Homo sapiens: one gene and its partners. The protein of the gene in region 5 purifies or fractionates together with the protein of the main gene of each other region. This does not show direct contact. Each region holds a gene or a part of one and is shown on either strand. Other genes may lie near its edges. The genes, in order: TIGAR, TXNDC5, CORO2B, CORO1C, TWF1, BASP1 and PIGR.

Evidence for each region.
Region 1: the proteins of TWF1 (region 5) and TIGAR purify together in Homo sapiens (affinity purification with mass spectrometry; 2 studies listed by BioGRID and IntAct, with this or other methods). This does not show direct contact.
Region 2: the proteins of TWF1 (region 5) and TXNDC5 fractionate together in Homo sapiens (co-fractionation; one large-scale study listed by BioGRID). This does not show direct contact.
Region 3: the proteins of TWF1 (region 5) and CORO2B purify together in Homo sapiens (co-immunoprecipitation; one large-scale study listed by IntAct). This does not show direct contact.
Region 4: the proteins of TWF1 (region 5) and CORO1C purify together in Homo sapiens (affinity purification with mass spectrometry; one large-scale study listed by BioGRID and IntAct). This does not show direct contact.
Region 6: the proteins of TWF1 (region 5) and BASP1 purify together in Homo sapiens (affinity purification with mass spectrometry; one large-scale study listed by BioGRID and IntAct). This does not show direct contact.
Region 7: the proteins of TWF1 (region 5) and PIGR purify together in Homo sapiens (affinity purification with mass spectrometry; one large-scale study listed by BioGRID and IntAct). This does not show direct contact.

What each region holds. Positions count from the first base shown.
Region 1 is NC_000012.12:4,319,912-4,324,012, reverse strand, and holds the start of TIGAR (fructose-2,6-bisphosphatase TIGAR), read right to left. Parts: upstream 2,801-4,101; 5' UTR 2,742-2,800; coding exon 2,710-2,741; intron 1-2,709.
Region 2 is NC_000006.12:7,886,789-7,890,288, forward strand, and holds part of TXNDC5 (thioredoxin domain-containing protein 5 isoform 1 precursor), read right to left. Parts: intron 2,794-3,500; coding exon 2,707-2,793; intron 2,061-2,706; coding exon 1,917-2,060; intron 1-1,916. UniProt on the Homo sapiens protein: Protein disulfide isomerase of the endoplasmic reticulum lumen involved in the formation of disulfide bonds in proteins. Can reduce insulin disulfide bonds.
Region 3 is NC_000015.10:68,577,812-68,581,792, reverse strand, and holds the start of CORO2B (coronin-2B), read right to left. Parts: upstream 2,801-3,981; 5' UTR 2,531-2,800; coding exon 2,516-2,530; intron 1-2,515. UniProt on the Homo sapiens protein: May play a role in the reorganization of neuronal actin structure.
Region 4 is NC_000012.12:108,655,019-108,658,518, forward strand, and holds part of CORO1C (coronin-1C), read right to left. Parts: intron 2,406-3,500; coding exon 2,286-2,405; intron 1-2,285. UniProt on the Homo sapiens protein: Plays a role in directed cell migration by regulating the activation and subcellular location of RAC1. Increases the presence of activated RAC1 at the leading edge of migrating cells.
Region 5 is NC_000012.12:43,796,318-43,799,817, forward strand, and holds part of TWF1 (twinfilin-1), read right to left. Parts: intron 3,186-3,500; coding exon 3,081-3,185; intron 2,269-3,080; coding exon of another isoform or gene 2,248-2,268; intron 1,517-2,247; coding exon 1,391-1,516; intron 1,136-1,390; coding exon 985-1,135; intron 781-984; coding exon 659-780; intron 1-658. UniProt on the Homo sapiens protein: Actin-binding protein involved in motile and morphological processes. Inhibits actin polymerization, likely by sequestering G-actin. By capping the barbed ends of filaments, it also regulates motility.
Region 6 is NC_000005.10:17,216,143-17,220,430, reverse strand, and holds the start of BASP1 (brain acid soluble protein 1), read right to left. Parts: upstream 2,801-4,288; 5' UTR 2,621-2,800; intron 1-2,620.
Region 7 is NC_000001.11:206,932,967-206,936,466, forward strand, and holds part of PIGR (polymeric immunoglobulin receptor precursor), read right to left. Parts: intron 2,853-3,500; coding exon 2,520-2,852; intron 1,781-2,519; coding exon 1,454-1,780; intron 201-1,453; coding exon 20-200; intron 1-19.

The DNA of each region.
Region 1 (4,101 bases), about 39 Mb from region 5:
TGCTTTAAAGATTTTTTTGCATTATCTGAAGAGGTAAGTCCAATAAAATTATCTAACTCTTCAAAAAGTCATTACATTTAACTATGGTGATAATGAGTCAAATTTAAAAATCACTTCTTTTCCTGAAAGAATCACCAGGTTTTGGTTTTGAGAACTCTGAAGGCAAGAAGCAGGAGGATCCAGACCGGAAAGCATTGAACCAGCCCTCTCACTCCATCTTCCTACACATAAAACAGAACAAAATAAACTATTGTCATAACTCCACACAATTATATTAAGAGACTAAAAAGTAGCCTCAAAAATGGCTGGTGATGTTCAAGTAATCTACAAATACCGGGTTTTAACAAATTAAGTAGGAAACAAAAGACGGTGAGTGGTAAAGTTGCTTTGGTTAAACTCCTACTTCCTCAACTTGCCATGTGACTTTAAGCAAGTTACAAGGCGTCTCTGTCTCAGCTGCCTCATGTGAAAAATGAGGATATCAGTCCTTAACTCACTAAACTGTCAGATTTTAATTACAACAGTGCCTGGCAAATAATCATTTATTAAGACTTATTTTTTAAATGATTCCTATGAGGGCCTCCGGAATCAAACCCTTTTTAAGCAGCAGAAAGGGAATAAAATCCATATTTATATGACTATTGTCTATTAGGAATCTAAATAGGAATCATCTTACTTTTTAGGGGTTGCCTTACCCCAAATATTCTACAACTTCTGAGTTTTCTTTTTTTTCTTTTTGAGACAGGGTCCCACTGTGTCGCTTAGGCTGGGGTGCAGTGGCCCAATCACAGCTCACTACAGCCCTCACTTCCCAGGCTCACATGATCCAAGTGATCTTCCTGCCTCAGCCTCCCTATTAGCTAGGTTCACAGGCATGCACCACCACAGCCAGCTTTTTTTTTTTTTTTTTGTAGAGAGGAGGTTTCACCATGTTGCCCAGGCTGGTCTTGAACTCCTGTGCTCAAGGGATCCACCCACTTCCGCCCCCCAACGTGCTAGGATTACAGGGGTGAACCACCTTGATGGTCTGAGTTTCAATTATAAATATGACACTGGGCTGGCTGGGTCAGGCGTCTAGAAAGTGCACTAACATTGGAAGAAAGGGTGATCAGGCCTCTAGTTCCTGTTCTGCTACCGATTAGCTGTGTGACCTTTAGTAAGTTAAGAATTCTCCCAAGGCATTCTATACAACCGAGAGGGGTGGGAGAAGAGATAGTGAGGAACTAGATTTCTAAGGTAGCCATTAAAATCCTGCTAATCCTAAACAGACAATTTTAGAGGATTCTTAAGATTATCTTTCTTATAAAGGAAGGACAGGCCAGAAAAGATAGCTGTTAAAGTCAATTGACAAAGTTAAATCATATTAATGTCCTTTGTGAGCTCCATGAATGCAGAAATGGTATGTTATTTATCTGTATGATCCAGTCTACTGGCACACATTACCTACTCAAAATGCTGGTGTGCTGAACTATACGTTCGTATTTGGGAATCAACTGCACTTTTATTGGAGCTTTCTTTATAGAAGTTATTTCTCAGATATATTTCTTTCCCTGTTGCATCATACACTTTACCTGTCCCCCATTTAATTCTCGCATTAAAGTAGTGAGATACGCACTATCATTTGCATATCAGGAAACTTAAGTCCAGGCTACCTGGCTCTTAGCTGGAGAACAGACTCCAACCGAGGTCTACCTTGCCTGAAAAATCTGTGCTCTTAGCAGGGCGCGGTGGCTCATGCCTGTAATCCCAACACTTTGCGAGGCCGAGGTAGTCGGATCACTTAAGGTCAGGAGTTCCAGACCTGCCTGACCAACATGGCGAAACCCTGTCTCTACTAAAAATACAAAAATTAGCCGGGCGTGGTGGCGCATGCCTGTAATCCCAGCTACTCGGGAGGCTGAAGCAGGAGAATCGCTTGAACCCCGGAGGCGGGAGGTTGCAGTGAGCAGAGATAGCGCCACTGCACTCCAGCCTGGGTGACAGAGCGAGGCTCCATCTCACAAAAAAAAAAAAATAAAAATAAAAATCTGTGCTCTTAACTACCCTGATTTTCACCTCCCGTTAACACTTGGCAAATACATAAAGACCTATCAGCATGCAGCTCCGTGTAACGTTATGATAATAAAAACATTTATTTGGGATGATACGGTCTGCTGAGATCAGAGCTGTGATCCTCTTTTCTCTCCCAGAACTGTAACCTCTGGGGAAAAGAAAGAAGTCTCATATATGTGCCTGGGGGGCTGACTGCCTGGGGAAACGAGGGGGAACCTCAGAAACTGAGAGGATAGCGGAAGGCAGCCGGCATCAAAAACATCAGCCATGGACGAGCAATTCTGCAAACTCTTTGCAATCTGCTGGGGAGCAAAATCGGTACCCAGACAAGTCTGTGGACATGTCTGGCACCGTTTTTGGTGCAGCCACCAAGTGCCTACGAACCCCGATCCCTTGCTCCTCCGGGCCTCACTTTATCTGAAACACGGAACGAAGCTATCTAAGACCTGCCGTCGTCCCTCGGGGCTGCTGGGGTGAGAGGAGGGGCGACACGGGACGGCCCCAGGGCAAGCGCCCCGGAAAAAGCGCTTCCAAGCCAGCCCTCCCGGGCTGGAGCGAGCAGGGAGGGGAGAGGGTGGTGGACCCGTTTTCCCTTCACCCGCTCCAACACACTCAAGGAAGAGAGAGAGAAAGACATCCTGCCACAGCCATACTCACTGCCGGACAACAGTCAGAGCGAAGCGAGCCATGTTCCCGGAGCCGCGTCCCGTCGGTGGCCCCGCGCCGCGCTGCCCCTGCACTGCGGGCTACCTCCCCCACACCACTTCCGCCAAGCAGCCGGCCGGCTCCGCCGCCATAGGCCGAGGCGGCCTCGCACGTCATCCCCGAAGGCCACTCAGGGCCGGGCGAGGCCGACGGGGCGGGGGAGACGAGGGAGCCACGGGGGCCCCGCCCAGGGCTGCGGCGCTTGCGCCCCTGCGCGCCGGCCTGTGATTGGCGCGCGGCAGGTGCGGGAGGCCCCGCCCGCGGAGTCCGCGGTAGGATTCCTTCCCTCGATAGCCGGCAGCCTGCGTTCGGGGCAGATAAGGAAGCCGGCGCACTGATTTGTGGTTGTTGCGATTGAGGCTGGAATGCAACCGTTCGTCTTATAGCTGGCCACTGTGATGAACCCCTCACGGGTGTACAGCGACCAACAGACTGTGTTCTATGAGGTCTGTTAGTCCCTAACCTTAGGGACGTAGCGTCGGCCAGGTCTGTAGACTTAGACCCACCCACCCCAACTCCGCCGGGACAGACGCCCTCCGTGACCAAACTTTAGTCGGGCTCCTTTGAGGCCTTTTCTATACTAGACGGCATCCTCGGCCTGCTGAGCCTGGTTTTACCAAAGAATCCTGCTAAGCCTGTTTATCAAGAGAGACCTCACTGTTGATGCTCTCTTCTAAGGCCCTTGATATCTAGTAAAGTTCCTCCTCCCCCTCCCCCAGATAGCTTACCACGTTCTGGTAATTTCCCATCTTCTCTTTCATCCCTTCCATCCCGCCCCCTGGCTATAAATCTCCACTGGTCCCGGTTGTATTCTAGAGTCGAATTCAGTCTCTCTCACCTATTGCAGTAGTCTTGAGTAAAGTCTTGCCGTTTTTAACAAGCCTCAGATGAATAATTTCTCTTTAATAGCCTTCAGAACGTTGAGGGAGTTGCTTCATGTTAGATATGAGTTCTAAATTTCTTTTCAAAGAATCAATATGTCAGTATGTTCAATTCTTTGCTTTTTACTTTTAAACTTAACTTCCTCCTAAAGCAACCTTCTCTTTTTTATTTATTTATTTATTTTTTTGAGATGGAGTCTGGCTCTGTCACCCAGGCTGGAGTGCAGTGGTGTGATCTCGGCTCACTGCAAGCTCCGCCTCCCGGGTTCACGCCATTCTGGCTCAGCCTCCCGAGTAGCTGGGACTACAGGCGCCTGCCACCACGCCCGGCTAATTTTTTGTATTTTTAGTAGAGACAGGGTTTCACCGTGTTAGCCAGGATGGTCTCGATCTCCTGACCTCGTGATCCGCCCGCCTCGACCTCCCAAAGTGGTGGGATTACAGGCGTGAGCCACCGCGCCCG
Region 2 (3,500 bases), on a different chromosome or scaffold from region 5:
CACGTGGCTAAGTGTACCAGGGCTGCTCCATTTGAGTCTGGCATCGAGTAACATGTCAGTGACGGAGGCCAAGGGGGCCACTGTGGAACACTACCATCTTTATGTCCAGAAACATGACGCCACACGCACTGAAAAGACCCACTTCATGGTGGAAAACTGCATTATAAATAGAAATGGTGCTGCGATGAAAACATCCGTGGTATATAATTATACTCAATTTGGGATGACCTTTGTAACCACCATGACACATACACTCCTCTAACATAAGTGGTCCTGACAACTACAAAATCAGCTGTTTACTTCTTCAACCAAAACGTCAACTTTTAAACAACACTCAGGCCATCCCCGACCTACAAGAGCCCAACTAGGGACAGGGTTGTAGGGGTGAGGAGGCCTGGTGTGGCCCCACCAGGGAGGAGGGGTTGGTGGCCCCACTGGTTTTTCCAAATCCAAACTCCTGGCCTTCAGGCATGACTTCTACCTGAAGAGGATGACACGGGCACTCTCGTCCAGTGCAGACCTCCTGCCGCAGCCCCAGGCTCATGGTTGGAACTGCCACTGGACACTGCCACCTACACAGCCGAAAGCCTTGAAGATCAACACCTTGAAAACCAAGCTCATCCCTTTCCTCGAGCTCTGGCCCCGCCCCTGTGCTGGGTACCATCCTCCACCAGATATGCGGGAATCAGACTCGCCTCGGACCCTCCCTCCCTCTCCGCGCTGCACAGCGGCTGGACTCCTTATGCTGGCTTTCTCCTCCTCGCCATCGCACAGTCACGGCTGCAGCATGAGGGAACGCATCATCTTTAAAGGCCTAATAGAGCAGCTTCCCACCTCCAGCACACGTGCATGCCGGTCATTTTCCTACAACTCCAATCTGCACAGAGCCTCCATGGGCTCCCTGTCAATATGGGATACAGTTCCTAATCCTTGGCCAGCTGCCCACAGACTCTCAACTCCAGCTCCTCTCTCACTCTCAGGGATCCTACACCACACCCTGACCTGTCTCCCACTGTGTTCCCCCAGCCCCAGCTCTGGCCCTGCAGAAATGCCGGCTGATTCTCGGGTTGTGCCTCTCCTGGTGCAGCCCCTCAGTGGCAGCCCTGCCCAGCCTATCTGTCCAGCACAGATCCCGTCAATCAGCTCCTTAGGGACACTTCTTGCCCATTTGCCCCCACTTCTCTCTAGCAGCCAAGCCCTGCACACATTTCTGCCCCAGCCCCCTGCCATTGGCTTGTGTGTCTTCTCACCATTTGCCTCAGAGACCTGTATGCTTCAGAGGCAGGAAACCGGTCTTATTTTTATTCCCTGGTGGCCTAGAACAGTGCCTGTGACATAACAAGGGCTTCATAAAGCAGAACAAATGAATCTGAAACCTCCTGCTACCTGAGTGAAGGAAGGAAGCCCCTCAGTGCATCAGGACTGCCTAGGCAGGTTACAGCTACAGTCACTGGCCTGATCGCTGCGGATGCCCTCTTGGCTACAGGTCTTCTAGGGGCCTTTACAACGGGTAAAGGAAAATGCCCGGAGCAAGGTCAGGAATAGAATCAGGGCCCCGGGGCCAGCAGTCGAGATTTCATAGCAGAAACATGCCCAGCAGAGTCATTCTTTAAAATGAATGAAGCGGAAAGGAAGGATTCTCTAGAGATTTTTGACACCAAATATTGTCTTGGGATTTGTCTCACATCCATTTCATGTTTTCAAAAGGAAAGCTTTTGTTTGCATTCGCCCCTGAAAGCATGTGAAAGTCGATGAAAAATACGTGTTGAAAACGCAACTGGAGCCAACCATCAGATGACTGTGTCCCCAAACTGTCATTTTGTCCAAAGCATTTGAGGAGGCCTCTGAGGGTGGGGAGGTGGGGGGCCGGGGGCCACGGGCCACTTATGGGGATCCCGACTCCAGCAGGCACCCACCTTGTCAGCCTCGGGCTCAGCTGCCAGCACCGGGGCCTCTGAGGGCGTGACGGTCTCCGTCGCTCCAGTCTCTGTGCGCTGCAGCTGCGACTCCACGTACTCCCTCAGTGACTCCAAATCCCGCTTTCCCTTGTACTGATCCACCTGGCCAAGACACGGGCACGCGGCTGAGTGAGTCCACTGAGGTGTTCTGAATCACTTAAGCCTTCCTGCAACCCCTGCTTGCCCGGGTCAGAGCTCCCAGATGTCTTAGCGGTGGTGCAAAGTCTGCATGTTCATATTTAGACGGGAATGTAGAGAGGATAACTGAATGCCTCGGCTTTGGTGAGAGAACTGTACAGGCCCCTCTTCCCTCCACGGGGTTACACATCACAGAAGTCTGGGGCAGAGGCCTGCCAGCAAGCCGTTGTGCTGATGGGGAACTCTGAGCTGCTGACCATCGGCCAGGGAAGGAGGGAGGGAGGCAGGCAGAACCGGACCAAGTGCAAGCCTTAGCTCTGTTCAAAGGCCTGAAGGTTTGTGTTTACAACCAGAGCACAGTTACCCTGTGACTGTAAGATGTGGGTTATTCTAGTGATAACCTGGGCCACTGAAATGTTTCAAGGTTCATCTCCACAACCCAAATCTTATCAATTAAGAGAAAGACGTTTGTTTCATTATACACATTTCTCCAAACCAGTGCCCTAACAATCAAGATTGGCAATTCACTGTGCCCATTAAACCACTCAGTAGCTCAGCCTGATGGGGTTAAGAGATGAAGAATTCTCAGTACTAAGAAGTGCAGACGTACCTTTTTCCCATCTCGGAACCAGAGAAGAGTGGGATAGCCACGAACCTGGTTTCCGGAGCAGAGTTCATAGTGCTGTGTACAATCAACCTGAGAATAAAAGCAGATCAACTTCCCAGTCAGTTTCTTCATGAACCTTCTTGCTAATGGGGCTACTGGACACTTTGTACGTTACAAATATTCTTTTCAAAATCCACATTCTGTAGCAACTCTGCCAGCAAGGTGCAGTTTTTGAAGAGAATGTTCCTGAAAGCTATGCTAAAACATACCTGAGCTAAAAGGAGTAAAGGAAAGACTTTAGAGGCAAGATTTATTGTATTAATAGCTCAGTTAAACATGCCGGTTTTTAGGAAGCAACATTTTAACTCGAGCAAGTAAAGTCAGCACCTGGTAGCTTGAGTCAGGGCCCTGGCTTGACATTTGGTGGTGGTGGGAGGGGGGTTAGCCTGGCTGTCGGTGACTGGGACCCAGACCAGTTCACATGCCAGCTTAGAATTTACTCTCATGCTGAAGCTTAGAGGGTTTTAAAATCAACAGGGAGCAAGAAGTGAATTTTAAACAGGAGTAGTTGGTATATAATAAAGGTAAGACTGCAAAGATGTCAAGATTATAATCCGTCCTTAATTTTATAAACTTAATTTACCAACAAGCACAGCTCTTCAAGCTTTTTCTTTCATTTAAATCTCATAAAGCTGCTGCTTGCCCAACATTTTCATGAAACATCTTGTTCTAAGTCATTGCTTTCTTTTTTATTTTCTACCAGCACTAAAATAGGCAGGACTAAGTTGTTATTCACT
Region 3 (3,981 bases), on a different chromosome or scaffold from region 5:
CTACCTACCGCTCCCAGTGTGTCAGCAGCGATCCTACCTCTCACACCCTCTTTAGGGTTCTCCTTCATATCTGTCTTGTAAACAGACCACCCCTCAGAGAACAAAGAGTCTCCCAATCTCCATCAGAGGTGACTTTCTTGCCAGAACTGAAGCTGCACCAAGGCTCAGCAGAAGAGGCCCTAGAGATCATTGGAACCAAGTCTTACATTTGACAAATAGAAAAACAGAGGCCCAAGGATGGAAGTGACTGGTCCAAGGTCACACAGCCTGTTGGTGGCTAATTTAGGACTAGGGGCCAGGCCTTCAGACTTCCAGAGCATGGTGGCTTTCCCTATGGTACTGGAAGAGCTACTACCAGCGGGCTTGTAGACAGCAAAGCAGTCCCCAGTGCCTTTCCTGCATCCCTCTTGCTCTCTGTTCCCCACAAGAACACGCTGGTCTGTGAAGGGCCAGCAAGGGGAGAGAAGATAGGGTTAAGGTGGGGATTTTATTTAATCCCCTGAGCTTGCTTAAGCCAAAGCCACATTGGTTAGAGCAGGAGGTGAGCGACATGGAGGGTTTGTTGGGGGCTGGGTATGGGGGTGGAGGAGTGTTGAATAGTTACTGGATACCAAGAAGCTAGGCCTGCCAGTGGGCTTAACAGGTAAGCACCCACTTTCATGGACTCCCTGTCCCATCCCTGCTTCAAGGTTCAGGTCTCCAAGCAGTGCTCCTCTACCATGGAAGTCCCCCAGTAGCCAGGATGCCCAACGATGCAGAGCAGTGCAAAGATCACTGGCCATAGATTGAGACAGACTTGAGGGCAAACCCCAGCTCTGCCACATACATGCTGTGTGACCTCAGGCAAGTCATTTCACCTCTCTGAGCCTCAGTTCCTTCCACTGTTAAAGAGAACTGAACACACCTTCCTTGCAGGCCTCCAGGGAAGGAAGGCTGCATGAGCTCGCGCACAAAAAGAGACACAGGGGAGGCGCTGAGTTAATCCTCAGCGCTATTATTAAAACCTCACACCCTTTCTCTCTCTAGCCGGGCCCATCCATTACTCCTCTGTCCCAGCCTGCTTGCATCTTTGACATTAATAACCTTAATATCCCTCCCAGCTGAATAGCATTTGCATCATTTCAAAACCCTAAGCATCTTACCCCAGGTGGGCCACAACAGCCCTGCCAGAAGTAGCCAGAGCTGAGGAAGCCCCTGCACCCTCAAGTTCATCTTCTCACAATGCTCCCAAGTCCCAGAACCAGGGCCAATGGCAAAGTTTGGAGTTGGGCCCAAGAATCCGCACAAACATTCAGTCTTGGGGCAGACCTCAGGAGGGCAAGGGTAGGCCCTGGCTTACCAGAAGGAGCCAAAACCACCCCACCTCCATCACTTGCACCCCAACCCTCCATCTGGCCCCACTGCTCTGACCCTCCATCTGACCCCACTCTGGGCTGCCGGTCCCACTTTGGCCTCCAGCTCCCCAATTCTGGGACCCAGCTGGGCAGCTGGAAAGGGTGGAGTCTGGCCCTTGAATGGACGGCCAAGCCCGAGGCCACCGCCAGACTGTGAGCTCAGTACCCAGACAGATCTCTCTGAAGAGTGTGGGTTCACACCCTTGATGTTATTGGTTCTTTAACAGCCTGTCACAACCCAGGACCCATATTATCACCCTCACAGCACACAAGAAGAAACTGAGGCCCAAAGTGGACCCCTCCCCGACCAAGGTCATCCAGGGGATCTGGGATAGAGCTGGGATTGAACTCAGGTCTCCCTGGTCCCTTGACCCTGGCACTTTCCACTGCCCCATCATCTTTCCTCTTAACTCTTTCCTCCCTACAACTAGGAAGCCCCTGAAGTCTCTCCAATAAACGTGGGCCCCTATGACAAGGCCCAACAATCATCCTCCAATATGGGGGCTGCCAAGATGCCCACCTTTGCTTCCCCTGTCACATTCCCTCCCCACATCTTCAAGCCAACCACCTGGACCTGCCCTGTCTCTGGTAGCGGCTCCCGGGACTGGGCAGCGCCTTCTGCACAGAGTGGCTTTGGAGTGGAGCCAGCGCTCCCGGCATGGGCGGCAGAGGCTGGCAGGTGGGGTGGGGTTTCCCCTCCGCTGGCCTCCTCGGGGCGGCAGGCCCATCCCCACACCCACTGCTCAGCACCAGCCCCTGCCAGCGACGCTTCCCGCCGCGCACTCCCTGGAGGGACACCGCTAGCCGCCCAGCCCAGCTCTCCAGGGGTTAAAAATGCAGCATCCCAAACAAGGGTTAAAAATGCAGTCCCGGGGTTGGGCCGGGCGCGGAGGGATGTTGGCCAAACCGCCGGGGCTGCCAGAGCGGCATCCTCCCCCTGGCCTCCGCAGTCCTTGGGGGCCGGAGTGACTCGAGCGGATCCGGCAGCAAGAGAGGCGCGCGCCGCACCTTCCCGGCACCGGCGCCCCCTCCCCACACCCACACCCCCGCGCCCCCCGCAGCCTAGCCCGGGGGATGCAGGCGCCGGCGGGTCCCGGGCGCGGCGGGCGAGCGGCGCTTACCTTTGTGACAGTCATGCAGAAACTCCGCGGCGGAGCGGGGGCGCGGGCGCGGCGTGCGGGGGCGGCGGCGGCGGCCCGGGGCGGCGGCGGAAGGGGGTCCGGCAGCTCCCGGCTCGCTCCCCGCGCCCCGCCGGCGGCTCGGCCGAGCCTGGGGGCTGCGCTCCGGGCGGGCAGCGCGCAGGGACCGCTCGTCGGCGCTCGCCCGCCGCTCGTCGCTGATGTCAGCCCCGAATGTGCATTTATAATAGATGAGCCTCCTTCGCCGCAGGAAGGCGAGGCAGGAAGAAAGGGAGAGAGGGAGAGGGCCCGGGCTGGGGGGCGGGGGGAGGAAGAGGGGCCGGGAACTCGCTACAAAGGAGGAGGCGGAGGGAGGAGGAGGAGGAAGCGCAGCCCGCCAGCGGCCGTGCCCCGAGCCTCCCGCTCGATCGCCGGCCGCCGGGCACCGCTGCTCCCGGAGTCCGGACGGGCGCCCGGGTCCGCGGCCTTAACCCCTTCGGGCCTGCGGACGCCACGCGGCTGGGCGAGGCTGGCTCCCGGCACCTGCCGGCTGGGAGAACGGGCGGCGCCCCGGGCTCTCGGGTGTCCCGCTGGCCCGGGGACGCTGGTGAAGTCACAGGCTGGACGGCCGAGGCGCTGCGCGGGCAAAGAAGGCGGTCGGGTTCGCCCCCTGGAGGCTCGCAAAGTCGGCCCGTGGGCCGTGAGTGTGGCGCGGCGGGCTGGGAGGGGCGTGGCAGCCGCAAGCCCGGGAGCCCTGCCCGCACCCCCACCTCGCGCTGGCCCGGGGCACAGGGTGGCCAGACGGATTTGTGTAAGCACTCTTTCGAATCTAATTCCCGCCGCGATGACTTGCCCGAAGGCCGCCTTAGTGAGTTTTGCAGAGGAGGAAACTGACGATCAGAGTGGGACGGACGTGGGAAGTGACTTAGACCACAGCACAGGACCTGCCTGCCCGAGCCGTTCCTCCCGCTCTTTCCACTCGGCCGCTAGCTCCCTAAGGAACCTCTTGTTATAGAAGCTGCCCTGCCCTAGGACTGTCTACACTACCACTGAGTGCCGCTCTACTGGTGGAGTGATAACACAGGTGCGTCCTGTGTGTTGATCCAATCCTGACTCGGGGCACAGTGTGTCCTGGAGCTGCTGCGGAGATTTGAGGGACAGTCACCTGAAGGTGACCTCGCAAGTCTTGAGAAAGGAGTCTCCCTCCCAAGCACCTGAGCAGAACCGGTTTCCGCAGATACAGAACCGCGGAGAGGGTGGAGGGGAGGAGTTAGCAGAGGTGGAAGCAGAGGGGTTCTCCAAGCAGGACAGCCTGGCAAGCCCGGAAGTGCTGGCTTCCTGCTCCACGGTAATTACCGGTGCAATTCACCTGGACAGCGAAGGCAACGTCATATATGAGCACCTGCTCTGTGGAAAGTGCTGGGGGAACAGAGAGGAGATGGGATGCCTGCCTTCCGGGAGACCAGTGT
Region 4 (3,500 bases), about 65 Mb from region 5:
AAAGTACTTCTTTAATTATAAAATATGTGTGCTTTTAAAAAGTTGAAAGATATAAAAAAGAACATAAAAATCATTCCATCAAAATCCTACAGCCCAGTGGGTGACAGAAGCTATTATCATTTTGATCTATTTCCTTCCGACACATGTACACAGAGATTGAGATGATAGAATGTATGTTGTATTTTTCCCCACTTAAGCTAATTATGAACATTTTCCCAAGCATGACTATTTTGATTTAGACAACTGATCATATTATTTATGAAATATGAACTTATTTTCCAAATCCAAAACACTAGATTCTTCATTCTTTTTAAAAAATATAGTCCCCTCCCTCTCCCCTTCCCCCTCCCCCTCCCCCTCTCCCTCTCCCCACGGTCTCCCTCTCCCTCTCTTTCCACGCTCTCCCTCTGATGCCGAGCCGAAGCTGGACGCTGCCATCTCGACTCACTGCAACCTCCCTGCCTGATTCTCCTGCCTCAGCCTGCTGAGTGCCTGCGATTGCAAGCGCGCACCGCCACGCCTGACTGGTTTTCGTATTTTTTTGGTGGAGACGGGGTTTCGCTGTGTTGGCGGGGCTGGTCTCCAGCTCCTGACCACGAGTAATCCGCCAGCCTCGGCCTCCCGAGGTGCCGGGATTGCAAACGGAGTCTCGTTCACTCAGTGCTCAATGTTGCCCGGGCTGGAGTGCAGTGGTGTGATCTCGGCTAGCTACAACCTCCACCTCCCAGCCGCCTGCCTTGGCCTCCCAAAGTGCCCAGATTGCAGCCTCTGCCCGGCCACCACCCTGTCTGGGAGGTGAGGGGCATCTCTGCCTGGCCGCCCATCGTCTGGGATGTGAGGAGCCCCTCTGCCCGGCTGCCCAGTCTGGGAAGTGAGGAGCGCCTCTTCCCGGCCGCCATCCCGTCTAGGAAGTGAGGAGCGTCTCTGCCCGGCCGCCCATCGTCTGAGATGTGGGGAGCGCCTCTGCTCCGCCGCCCCGTCTGGGATGTGAGGAGCGCCTCTGCCCGGCCGGGACCCCGTCTGGGAGGTTAGGAGCGTCTCTGCCTGGCCGACCCGTCTGAGAAGTGAGGAGCCCCTCTGCCCGGCAGCCGCCCCGTCTGAGAAGTGAGGAGCCCCTCCACCCGGCAGCCGCCCCGTCTGAGAAGTGAGGAGCCCCTCCGCCCGGCAGCCGCCCCGTCTGAGAAGTGAGGAGCCCCTCCGCCCGGCAGCCACCCCGTCTGGGAAGTGAGGAGCGTCTCTGCCCGGCAGCCACCCCGTCCGGGAGGGAGGTGGGGGCTCAGCCCCCGCCCGGCCAGCCGCCCCGTCCGGGAGGGAGGTGGGGGGTCAGCCCCCACCCGGCCAGCCGCCCCGTCCGGGAGGGAGGTGGGGGGGCAGCCCCCGCCCGGCCAGCAGCCCCATCCGGGAGGGAGGTGGGGGGTCAGCCTCCACCCGGCCACCACCCCATCCGGGAGGTGGGGGGCGCCTCTGCCCTGCCGCCCCTTCTGGGAATTGAGGAGCCCCTCTGCCCGGCCACCATCCTGTCTGGGAGGTGTACCCAACAGCTCATTGAGAACGGGCCATGATGACGATGGCGGTTTTGTGGAATAGAAAAGGGGAAAAGGTGGGGAAAGGATAGAGAAATCAGATTGTTGCTGTGTCTGTGTAGAAGGAAGTAGACATGGGAGACTTCATTTTGCTGTGTACTAAGAAAAATTCTTCTGCCTTGGGATGTTGTTGATCTATGACCTTACCCCCAACCCTGTGCTCTCTGAAACATGTGCTGTGTCCACTCAGGGTTAAATGGATTAAGGGCGGTGCAAGATGTGCTTTGTTGAACAGATGCTTGAAGGCAGCATGCTCGTTAAGAGTCATCACCGCTCCCTAATCTCAAGTACCCAGGGACACAAACACTGCGGAAGGCCGCAGGGTCCTCTCCCTAGGAAAACCAGAGACCTTTGTTCACTTGTTTAACTGCTGACCTTCCCTCCACTATTGTCCTATGACCCTGCCAAATCCCCCTCTGCAAGAAACACCCAAAAATGACCAATAAAATTAAAATTAAAAAAAATTAAAAAAATAAAAAATATATAGTCAACAGCCTCTTCAGGAGTATCAAAAGTATGTCTTTGAAATACATTTACCAGTAAGTCTCCAACGAGGATAAGAACTTCACATCCAATCTAAGACAATCAGGCGTTTAGAAAACTACACTAAGAATCCCATAATCTACTTACTCACTGGAAGACCTGCTCAGAACAGAGAGAAAGCTCAAGTGAAAGCAAGTGGAAAGCCTGGGGAGGGCGTACCGGATTCCAGAGAGCCAGCTGCCGCTCGCTCATGCGGCTGAACCCAGTGGTGAAGACATTGCCATCGGCCAGGAAGATGGCTCTCATGGGTCTTGCTCCTTCATGTGCTTTCTCCTTCTCCTGGAGAGCAAAAAGGCACATGCCACACATTAAACTGCAAGAAGACAAGGTGAGTGGAGAAACTCGGGCACAGATCCAACCTCACCAACTGCCATTCATGTTCACCTGGGTGTGGGAGGGAGGTCAGTGTTAACCATCCCCCTTCCCCAGATGAGGAAACAAAGAGATACTATGTGATCTGGTCAAGGTCCCTCTGTGAGGCTGCAAGAATGCCAGGATTTAACTCAGAAGACTCGCTCTCTCCACCATATCCTGCTGCCAACCCAAGTCTATGCACTGTGAAAATAAAACACATGAAAGGACTCTGACAAATGTTTGTTTCTCAAGAGGATAATAACATAAGGAGATTAGGCATGCCCTACCATTTCTACCAATATCATAGGGCAGAAAGAAGCCTTGTCTAGTTAACGCTTTCCTTGACCTCAGTAGTTTAATGAATGCACTAGGACAACCCTTAGAAGATGTCGGGTGGAGAAAACACTTAACACAGGGCTGGGCAAGTCCCCAGGGCTCAGTAAGCACCAGCTACTATCATTGCCCAACTCTTGAAAAGAGATGCAGCCAAAGAACAACCACATCTCAGGAAGGGCCTCAGAGTGTGGCAAATGAGGACTTCTCAGACTTACTATGTGTAGTTTCAACACCGACTGAAGACCCAAATGTCCATCTTTTGTCAAGGTATGTGATTTTGTTGAGGTCCAGTTTGGGTGGCAGAAACTAAGACACTGAGCTGATGAGAGAACTTGTTGCTTTTCGCCCTGCGCATTTATTTATTTATTTATTTATTTATTTTTGTATTTTTAGTAGAGACAGAGTTTCACCATGTTGGCCAGGCTGGTCTCAAACTCCTGACCTCAAATGATCCACCCACCTCGGCCTCCCAAAGTGCTGGGATTACAAGTGTGAGCCACCATGCCCGGCCACCTGTTGCATCTTTAACAGCTGTGTTTGGAAAAGGGTGAGGAATTGATTCATCAATATTCAATACTAAGCTGCAAAATCAGGAATGCAGCCAATTGGTTTAATTGATCAAGACTTATAAACTCTTAAGGACTCTAGTGAACTGATACAAACTATTTCTTTGTGAAAAAAGGC
Region 5 (3,500 bases):
GAACTTAAAAAGCATGAAGGGTTCAGAACCTAAAAACACTGGTAGTTTTTAAGGACCTGTATTTTTATGAGTTTAAGGGCTCAAGAATATATATCTTTCCCCATGCCTTATCTGTACTTAAGAAAATTTAAGAAAATTGGTAGCTTAGTTCCCAAAATTCAAATGTTTATGCTTATTCCTTCCTTCCCCCAAACTGGAAAGACTCCCAACCATCCCATAATTCAGTCATAATGGAGACTGTAATTCCTTATTAATATGCAGTAGAAATAATCACAAGTATGCAGCTCTGGCAGCGCTGTCCAATAGGACTTTTTGCACTGATGGAAATGTCCTATAAATTCTGCACTAACCAATACGGTAGCCAGTAGCCACATTTAGCTAATGAGAATTTGACATAAGGCTAGTGGAATTAAGAAACAGAACTTTAAATCTTATTTAAAGTTAAATAGCCACATGTGGCTTACTAGGAAGTACAGATATATATAGAGATGGGGATCATGACAGGTAGTTCCCAGGCACTTAGAGGAGATCCTAAGGATTTAGGATGATAACAAGAAAAATAAATATTTTCATTTATAAATCACAGTACATCATAAACTACATAGAAATGAAAAGAAAAATTTAGCAAAAACTGAAGATTTTAAAATAGGTGGGCTACCTTTCTAATTACATCCATTTGTAGTTGTCTTTCTACAATTTCTAGCAGACGGCTCTTGCAGCTAGAATACAGCATCCGCTCTCTTATACTGCATGTGTATCCAGGCATTGAATAAATAAAAACTGTAAGTTCAAATAATAACAAATATAATTAGCATATCAATACATAAACTTCATAAAACTACATATATAAACTTCATAAAAACAAGTACAGAAACTTCATAAAACTACAGCTAAGCCCTCTGGGCAAGAAATAAGTAAGAATATAGGGCTGATACACCAATAAACAAACTGAAAGTAATGTGTTAAAAACAATGTATCATATACCTATGGACTCTAAATAGTCTCCTTCATGGGAATGTTTATACAGAAAGAAATGGTAACGAGCTGAATCCTTGGGAATCCTCTTTGGCAAATCTTTCAGTTCTGTATTTGTTGTGTTGGCCAAAATTATAATTTCATTTTTTATATCTATTTCCTGCCAATAAGAAACAAAATATGTTCATTAAAACCAGATATAAGGAAATTAAGTTAAAACATATAATAAAAAGACCAAGAGATAAAGGAGGAACTTAGTTCTGGATGGTTTGACTTTTTCACAATGAACATTTACAAAATGAATTTTAGAAATCAGAAAGCTATTTAAAATGTAAAATCCATTAATAATAAACCCTATATGAGTCATAAACTACCAAAAAGAGCAGCCACTTAATAATCATTATACATCTCTTACCAACTGCACATAGTTGAGCTGTCTATTATTCAATTTTTCCAAAGCCTGAAAGGCTTCTCGAGAAATGGGAAATGCTACTCCTTGTAGTGTTTGATGCTTAGTGTCCACACCCACGTCAGTCTGTACCTAAGTATGACAGATTTAATTTACAAGTTTAGCAGTTAGCAGTATCCTATGGCAAACATAAGAAAACCCAACCTCTATAAAATAGTATCATTCAACCCTAGCCCAACCTATAATTAAAATTATTTTTCACATTTGTTTACGGTCCTGCTAGCATTTTGTCAACATGCAGAGTGCATGACACATCTTTACGACAATGTTGGAAGTGAACATTTGAATGAGTGTACAGTTAGTGGGGTTTGGGTGGGTTTGTTTTTATGTTTGGTTTGGCACAATTTCTTTAGAGTGTCATCAGATTACACCACTGATTGTAAAATTTTACTTGATAGAATTTATAAACAACAATCTACATACAATATGTATAGAACTTTACTTTGTTCTGTTGGACAGAAAATGCAACACAAACATCATGCACTGAATTGAAAGGAGTACAAACAGTGTACAAAGACAACACAGCTCAACAAGTTATACTACTGCAGAAGTTCCAGACTTAAGAGATTTCTTTACTAAGAACATGGTGTGCATGTACTGGAAGAGGAGAAAGATAAGAAAGCATTCAATGCACATGTTTAAGATTTTTATACTTGATAAATGATAGCTAGTAGAGAGTCTCATTCGCAGTGTTGCAACAGAAAGTCCAATAGAAATTTTACTTTTAAAAAAATGAATGGAGATTCTACAGCATAAATGATATTGGTTAATGAAAACATCATAGAACATATGCGAATGCATACCCCAATATGATCCTCTGGGCTCTGATTGCAAGAAATAAAACAAACTATCAAACTCGTAAAAAAAAAAAAAAATCACATAAAAAGCCCTACTCAAATAATATGAATTAAAATAATATGATAGATCCTTGCTACCAGTTTAATATTAAATGATATTCAACCATTCTCCAGACTGATTCCTACTGTCTGTGACTCAGGCTAATGAACAGTGGTTTCAGCTAATGAATAGTGGTTTCAGCCACTTGTTCTTTTCTGTAAAGTCCCAGTAGAAATACAGTAGTTATTCCAGTATGTTAGAATGGCTGTAGAAAACACATTAAAAATAATGATAAACTACAAAATAATATGGCTGAAATTTATTGACTCTAATATGCTCAACAGGTACTCAAATAATAATCTTCCATATATATCTCTATTCAAGTAGAGTTCATAGAAGTTAATTTGTAGACTCTCTAGAAAGCCAACAAAACAATAATCTGCTTCAGGCAACCTTATTAGATACATTCTTTGCACTAAATGGGTAACACACACTTTTTCTCTATATAATATTCAAAGTACAAAGTTCACAACAGTTGTACTTCAAAAGGAAGATTTACTATTCTGACATGAAGATTATAGGAAAAGCTATTTATAAAATGCATATAAAGTTTAATATTCATTTTAACTTTTTTTTTCTGAAAAGGCATTAAGCACATAGCCTTATCTCTAAACTAAACGGAATAAACCTAAGCTACCTAACTTCTTTAATCTCTAGTTATCCTCCCACATCTATTAATTAAAAATACAGTATTTTCAAACACTTAAAATCTTGCAAAGACTTTGTAGTTGTAACTTACCTCATTGATTTTAATCTGTCGTAGTTCTTCCTCAGCTGCAGTCAGTGGGGCAGGGGAAGATTGTGACAGCAAGTATTTTTTATATCCATGTAATGATACATCTTCCTGTAAGTACAGAATAGACTATAATCAGTAATTCTCTAGAAGTAAAATGACAGTGAAGTTACTTTAGGAAAAACAAAATCATTAACAGAAAAGATTTTAAATGAAAATAAATAGCATTATGAATTTTAATATCTTTTTACTTTTCTTTAATCCTCAATTTTAAGTTTCAAAACTTTTTAAGGGGAGTACCCACTGTTCATTTTATATGAAGCTTTATAATTACTAAATATTTTGTATGAGTTTCATACTGGCAAAGTGAAATACTGAACCTGGTCATCCTGTAAGTCTATAGGACAACTGTAATTAACCTTCTGG
Region 6 (4,288 bases), on a different chromosome or scaffold from region 5:
AATTGGGGACATGCTGGTATATATTTGCTATTGAATTTGTTCTATATTCCAACATACCCCTCGCCAAAAACACAACCTAAAGGAAAAGAAAAAAGAAAGAACGTAGCTCTCTAAATCATAATAACCTACTCAATACTAAGGAGTACAGAGGGTACAATCCATGCCACCTAGAAGACAGCTAGACAGCCACCGTAGCCAGTAGATGGGCCCTGATATATTAAACGTGGTCAATATCAAGTTCTCATCAAAAAGGACAAAAGAGATGATTTCCATTGCTGCCACGCGTTATTCCACCAGGATGTACTGACAGTACTTAAGCATAAAACCCTATTAAACATAACCTACCACTGCAAAAAATATCATATTTGGCTCCTATTTAATATACACAATAAGTCCCTTTTTGTGTGGTAAAAACAAACTACCTGAAAATAAATCTAAATGGCCATAACCTGGAAAATAGATCATCTGAAAGAAAATCAGCCATCAAAGGTATATCATGGCTTCTGTTAGGTAATGGGGAAAAAGGAATCATTGCGAACCTAATCAACCAGCTTCACCCCAACGACTGCCTTCTTTCTGCCCCCATCAGATTTCCATCTGGACGCCATTCGCCTTTTGGAATCCTTAATGAAACAATGAGTTCGGAGTCCAGAGAAAACAGAAAGGGTTAGGATCCCGACAAGGTAATCGTTTTCTTCTCTCCGGTTTTTGTAGGCCATCTTGTTCGAATAAACGCCAAGATGTCTTAATTTTCCCCAGGTGGTGTCACTGGAGGCAACGCCCACTGACAGTTTTGAGGCCACCTTCCCTTAATCAAATGACCAAAAAAGATCTGTCAAACGGTTAATTGATGCAAATTAAGAAAGCCACCCTCACTGCAGTAAGATATGTTACAGGAAAAAGAACAATGAACAGTACTAGAAAGGAAAATAACAGTGTGCGGGTACAAAATATTTAATCCACAATTTGCCTTCATCCTCATCAAGGCAAATCTTAATTTTGGTCAATTGAAATCAGCAAGAAAGCAAAAGATGAGAGACAGCCTGGAAAAGAAGAAACACACACACAGGCGGGAAAAACTGTCATTGGTGTCCAAGGGTTTCCCGCAACATTTAGGGCAAACGCCTTTGTTCCTCGGCTCGGGAGGGGAGTGGGTGGCTGGATGATGGAGATGGGATGGGGCTGCCGGGCCCTCCACACCCTGCTCTCCGGCGCATGCGCGAGGCCAAGACAAAGGAATAGGTAATTACAGTCCCGATTCATTCATTTTGCCTGCAGTATACTGGGGGTCTGTTGGCCCGGGCTGTAATCCCGGGAGGTGGGGGTGGGGGGTCGGTCCACAACCCTATAGCAGAAGGCCATTTCGACGCTAGTGTTGGGTTTTAGCCCGCCCCACAGTGCGAGTGGCCGCGGGGGAGACAGAGGTGTTGTCAACCTGTACAAGGTCCTAAAAAATGCACCCATGTGTGCTGTGCTAATTTCAGCAGAGTGAGAATTACATGGGCAAGGGCTGTCCACCGAGTTCGTTTCAAGGCGGAAATGTCTCTGGGGACGCAGATAAGGAGCCTGGCCAAGCGTTCGATGAATATTCATGAAAAGAATGCGGTTTGCAGCCGCGCATTGTGCGTGCGATCGGATCCAGGATTCCGCAATTTTTATTTTTCTGGAAATGGAGGGGGGACGGGGGCGGGGGGAGCAGGAACCGGGCGCCGGGTTTCAGCTTTAGCGCTTTGGGCAAAAGCTGCTCAACCCCAACCCTACGCTCCCAGCGGGGCTGAGCCCAGTTAGGGCCGCGCGCTGTCAGGTTCAAGCCCACACCCCCCGGGCCCGGGCCGGGGCCGGGACCCAGGGCGGAGGCGCCTGGCGCATTCTTGGAACCAAAGGCTCGAAAAAACAAACTGCTCCGAGGCAGCCCACGGGTTCGTAGGAAGGCAATTCCGCCACTGACGAGGCTGGGGCTCCGATCTGCTCGGGAGGTGCTTCTGAGTGCACGTCGCCGTGTGAACCTCGTATTCCTTGGCCCCAGAACCAAGATCCAGGAGTCCCATGGGTCGAGAAAACCCGTTTGCCAAAGCAAAAAGCCACCCACTTCCTTCTGATCGGGCCAGATTCCCCATCTTCTTTCTCCCCGGACTCCCGCCCCACCCCACCCCCACCCTCCATCTTTGGCTGCTGCGCCCCTCGCCCCGAGCGCTTTCTCCCAGGCTGGTAAGGGCTCCGATGACGGAAGCGCTCCCTTCAGCCCACAGAACCGTCTCCCCGGGACTCAACGCACTGAGGGGGTTTCGCATTCGGCAATTCCTCCCGTCACCCGCAGCTCCTCTCCCCGACAGCCCCCTCCCCCCAGCTCCGTTTACCAACCTCGCCGCCCCCCTCACCCCTCCACCATGCGAGCGGCTGAAGCCTCCCACTTCTGGGCCCCCCATCACCCGGGATCCCCGAAGTGCGACGGAGCCCTCACAGAGGGACCCCAGGCCCTTGCCGTCCAATCCGGGCCCACATCCCTGCTGCCCGCTGCATGAAGGGAGAGCCCGGGGGCTGCGGGGCGGGGCGCGGCGCGGTGGGGGACGGAGGCCCCCGGGTCCGCGGCGGCGCGGGGCCACCGGGCGCGCCTCCTTACCGGCTCTGGGTGCCTATGCAGCCCCTGAGTTAGCGCGGTGCCGCCGAGAGGCCGGGGTCGCTGGCGTCGTCTGGCTGGTGCCTGGCCGCTGGCGGAGGCTCTCTCCCGGCTCGACGGCGGAGCCCGGAGCGAGGAGCCAGTTGGAGCGCTGCCGCCGCCGTCGTCGCCGCTGCCGCTACTGCCGCCGCCGCCGCCGCTGCAGCCTCTGCATTTCTCGCGCTCGCTCCCCCTCCCCTTCCTGCCCAGTGCCCTCCCCCCGCGCGTCCGCCCGCCCAGCCTCCCTCCTCCCGCGCTCCCCGCCCGCCTCTCTCCCCTCCCTCCAGCCCGGCGCCCCGCCCGTCTCCCCTCCACCCCCTCCAGCTCCATCTCCCCACCCCCTGCACTCCCTCTGCTCCCCTCCCCTCCTCCGGCGCAGACCCTCCCCTCTCCCCTCCAGCCTGGACACGCCCGCCTCCCCTTGACTCCCCCCAGCTCTGGGCCCCCACCTCCCCTCCCCTCCAGCACAGTCACCCCCATTTCTCTCCTATCCGCCATCCTGGTTCCTCCCTTCCCCCCACCTCCCAACTCTGTGCCCCGCCAACGTTTCCTAAATGCCCTCTATTCAGATCCCCCCTCCGCCTCCCCTCTCCTCTCCTCCATTCCTGCGTCCCCCTTCCCCCGCCGCGCCGCCTGGGCTGTCCGTGGACTTCTCCCACTCTCTCACTCTCTCACTCACTCTCTCTCTCTCTCTCTCTCTCTCACTCTCTCTCTCTCTCTCCCCCTCATTTATTTGGAACCGTTGGATAAGAAGTGCTCGGGCTCTCGCTCAGACTTAGGGAGCTGCCTCGAGGTGATGAATGACACCCCCTGGCACCAGCTACCCTTCTCAGACCCCAGTCCAGCCCGCTCCCGACGTCGACTACGATTCCGCTACCTCGGCTGGCAGCGAGGTTGGGGTGAGCCCCAGCTGCAGGCGCGTCTGGGCTGCGCCGCTGCAAACGAGTTGCGCACCTTGGGCGGCTCCGCACCTGCACCCGCACCCGCGGGGCTCAGCCCCGAAGGCTGCAGCTTCGGGGGAGGCGCGGTCGCCGAGGTCCAGCTGGTGGGGCGAGAGACGTCGCCCCTCGGAGGATGCTCTCGGAACTTGGGAGAGGAAGGAGGGAAGAGAAGAGGGGAAAGGGGCCGTCGATGTTTTTGATGTCTGTGCTTTAATGGAGGCCACCAATATTGAGAAGACGGGGTTGGCCGAGGCAGCCCGCACGCTGCTGCTTGCGAGCGCTCGAGTCAAAGCTAGGGCCAACCGCGGCTTGTCCGGGTGCCCTAAGGGGGCGGACACTTGGTTTAGCACCGGGACACAGAATAGCCACCGGGGTAGGAAGATGCGTTCACTTTGCTTACCTGTTGGCAAGAGGGACATACAAAAATAACGTAACGTGACATCGTTGACAACGGTAGCTCTTTGATTACACAAAAGCCAATTTTACCTTCCCGCAAAAGCCAGTTGACGCCTTTGGAACTTTTATTTGCGGCATTTTGGCGCCCTCTGGCTGTGTTTGGATCGCTTTCATGCTCGCCTGCGTCCCAGCCAAGAAAAAATCGATGGAGCTGCAGGTTGTCCTCAGGATGGTTCTGCCCTCAGGACCTGGGCGTGAATTCAGGGACAGGGTGGCCCTCCAGAACCGGAGTGAC
Region 7 (3,500 bases), on a different chromosome or scaffold from region 5:
GCCTTGAATCCTTCCTTACCTGCCGGAATCCACAGATGCTCTGCTCCCATCGGCTTGATCTCTTGTATCTGCCACCGCCTTTTCCTCTGCAAAAAGCCTGGGATCCTGAATGGCTTTGTTCTCAATCTCCCGAAAACCAGAGTCTAGCACCTTCTCATCAGGAGCAGCGTCTGCCTTCGCTAGGCTGACATCGCGGGACCCTGCAGCAGGGAAGAGTGGGCCTGGGTTGTGATTTTTCTCTATGCTCTTACTCCTCGAGGTGAAGGAGTCTGGGGGAGACTTCATGAGGAATCACAGGGTCAGGGTTCGATCTCAAGGCTGTTGGGGTAGGACCCAGGATGACATTAGAAACAGCTGTGATGGCCTTCTTCAGCTGTCACAGATGATCTCTGCCCCATTACTACCAAAAGTATAGTGGGGACCTTCAAGGCTTCGTGTCATAGACCAGCTGTGCATAAAGGCTGACCCATCACTTATGCCCGGGAGATTTTCAAGGCTCTGAGACGCTGCCCCAGGCTTCCTGACTGCCCAGCTGGGTATGATAGTGCTGCCCCCTGGAGGTAGCCTGGCGATGGGCCCCTCAGTGAGTCCCATCCGCAGGGTCCAGACCCAATAGGATTTCTTGAGGGACTACAAATACCCTTATTAGGGCTAAAACATTTCATGTGAAATTTTAAAAGGGGACTTGAAATGCAAATTTACTAGATGTTTCCTAATTTTCCTGATCAGACCTTGTAAATGAAGGTATCTGGCCCTCTTTCGAGGGCGAGCTTTGGCAGGGGGAAGGGGGATGAACATATTGCATATGACAGTGATGTATGCATATTATTCTTCTATACAGAGAAGAATATTTCCAGATATAGAAGAGACTTCAATCTGGGTTGAAGTGGCAACTATGGGACTTGTCTTTTTTTTTTTTTTGAAATGGAATCTAGCTCTGTTGCCTAGGCTAGAGTGTGGTGGCACGATCTCAGTTCACTGCAACCCCTGCCTCTTGGGTTCAAGCAATTCTCATGCCTCAGCCACCCAAATAGCTGGGATTACACCACCATGCCCAGCTAATTTTTGTATTTTTAGTAGAGACGAGTTTTCTCCATGTCAGCCAGGCTGGTGTTGAACTCCTGGCCTCAAGTGATCTGCCTACCTCGGCCTCCCAAAGTGCTGGGATTACAGGTGTGAGCCACCACATTCAGCTGGGAGTTGTCTTAATGCCGAGGTTAAATAGCAAACCCACTATTTTTACTTAGTTGGTATGTTTATTTGAGATGTCCCTTTTGAAGGGCTCAACGAGGCTATATAGGACCTAAATGTCCCCTCCCTTCCCACTCTCCACTTTCAGCCTCTTACAGCCAAACATAGGGGCCAGCACTGATTGAGAAGCTCTCAGGCAGGGGCCTTCAGGAAGTCCTGCCTCTGGGTCTGAGGGGTGCAGGCCCTGTCCTTGGAGACTCACCCGCTGCCTTCCTCTCTTCAACTGCCACATAGACGGCTGCAGTCTCTCCATAGAAGTGGCCCTGCTTCACTCCACACCAGTACCAGCCCTCATCAGCCCTGGTCACCAGGTTCAGGGTCAGGGAGACAAGCCGGCTGTTCTCGTCACAGTTCACGAAGGCCTTGCTGGGGCCTTCGTCTTGGCTGGGCAGGGCCTGGCAGCCCGTGTTATTCCACTTGCACCAGTATTTCTCGTACGAGGAGAATTTGCATGGAAAGTGACAGGGGACCTTGAGAGTCTCTCCCAGCACAGCCGTGACATTCCCTGGTACCTTGAGGTTTGGTTCTCCTGGAGGAGGGAGGGAGGTAGAAATAAACACAGAAGTTGGTACTTGGAGATGCTGCAGGGAAGTGACTCTGGTGGGAATCTTTGTCCACATGTCATATACATATATATATATATTTTTGTTTTTGTTTTTGAGACAAGGTCTCTCTCTGTCACCCAGGCTGGAGGGTAGTGGTGCGATCATAGCTCACTGCAGCCTCCATCTCCTGGGCTCAAGCAATCTTCCTGTCTTGGCCTCCCAAGGTGCTGAGATTACAGGCATGCACCACCATGTTCAGTCTACATATCCTCTTTGGATAGCATTAGAAATAAGTATGTTATTCTGACTACAGAAGAAATGTAATTGTGTGCCTAGGTAATAATTATTATTGATGAGCACCATGATCAATCCAGAGTCTACCATAGACCATAGATCTTCACACATGGACTTCAGTTTGCTTTCCTCACTCTTCCTTCTCTTCTAGACTCAATACAAAGAGGTATCTGCAATCCTTGACTTCAGCTGATGCCTGCACACTGCGAAAGAAGCCCATGTTCTTGGTAGTAGGAGGTACCATGTATGGTAATTCAGAGTGTAAGGTGCGTGTTATAGGCATGAAAATGTGACCTCTGGATAGGTGGGCTCCCTCCTGAGGTCTGGCCCATCAGGGTGGAGGCGGGTGAAAAAGGAGGAAGAGTGGTTGGGGATGCTGCTGCTGGCTGGAGAGGTTTTAGAGCTTTCTCCCTCCCTGTCAACTCCTACCTTCGATAATCTTGATCTCCACGGTGGTCCTCCAGAGAGTATCGCCGTTGGTCAGACACCAGTAGAAGCCGGCGTCCCGGCTGGTGAGCTGGTTGAGGATGACAGTGAAGGTGCCGTTGCCTGGCTCCTCCAGCAGGGAGAGGCGGCCCTCGTACTGGGCCTTAACCCACCCCTCGCTGTCCACCAGCAGGGGGCAGCGGCCATTCTGGGCCCCTTCCCAGAGACACCAGTACTTGATGCTTTTGCTTTCCTTACGGTTGTAGGGGCAGAGCACGGCCACAGAGCCTCCTGCCACCCCCTTCACCACAGTGGGGCTGCGGGGAATCGTGGACTCTGGAAGCACAGACAGAGATGGGATGGGAGGATGGCCACGCAGGAAGAGCCTTGCGTGGCCTGAGAAGCCTTCTTCCCGGGGTCTCAGCCAGGATGGGGAGTGAAGTTTACACGCATCACCTTACCCTCTTCAGAAAATGAAAAGGAGCTTTCCTAATGTCACAGAGCCTGCAGCTGGAGCCATCAGGGCCAGACTCCAAGGGCTTGGAGTCTCCCCATCAGCCTGCACATGTTGTTCTTTTCCCCCATCTTATTCTGAGCAGAGAATGGAAGGAGTTGAAGGAGAGGATATCAGCTCTTCTTTGGCTTCTTACAAAGTCTCCCTCTGTGTAGGTTTTTGTCTATTTAGTACACTAACAAGTGTATTCCACAAAAGTGGCCCAATGGATTATGCCCAAATCAAGAAAATATATTTAGGATGGTATGATGTAAACTATAAAGTATGTAGCAAAGGTGAGCTTAATTGTTGGGGCCCCAAGGGGCATCTCAAAGACGATAGCCATTCTCCAGGCAGCTAAAGCTGAGATCCAGAGAGAAGCAGGTGACCAAAGATGCAGGGGATTCTGGTGAAAACCCAGAGCTGGATGTGGACATGGCATGCAGAGAATATAAGCCCCTTTAAAAAAAAAAAGTCACAAGCACAGATAC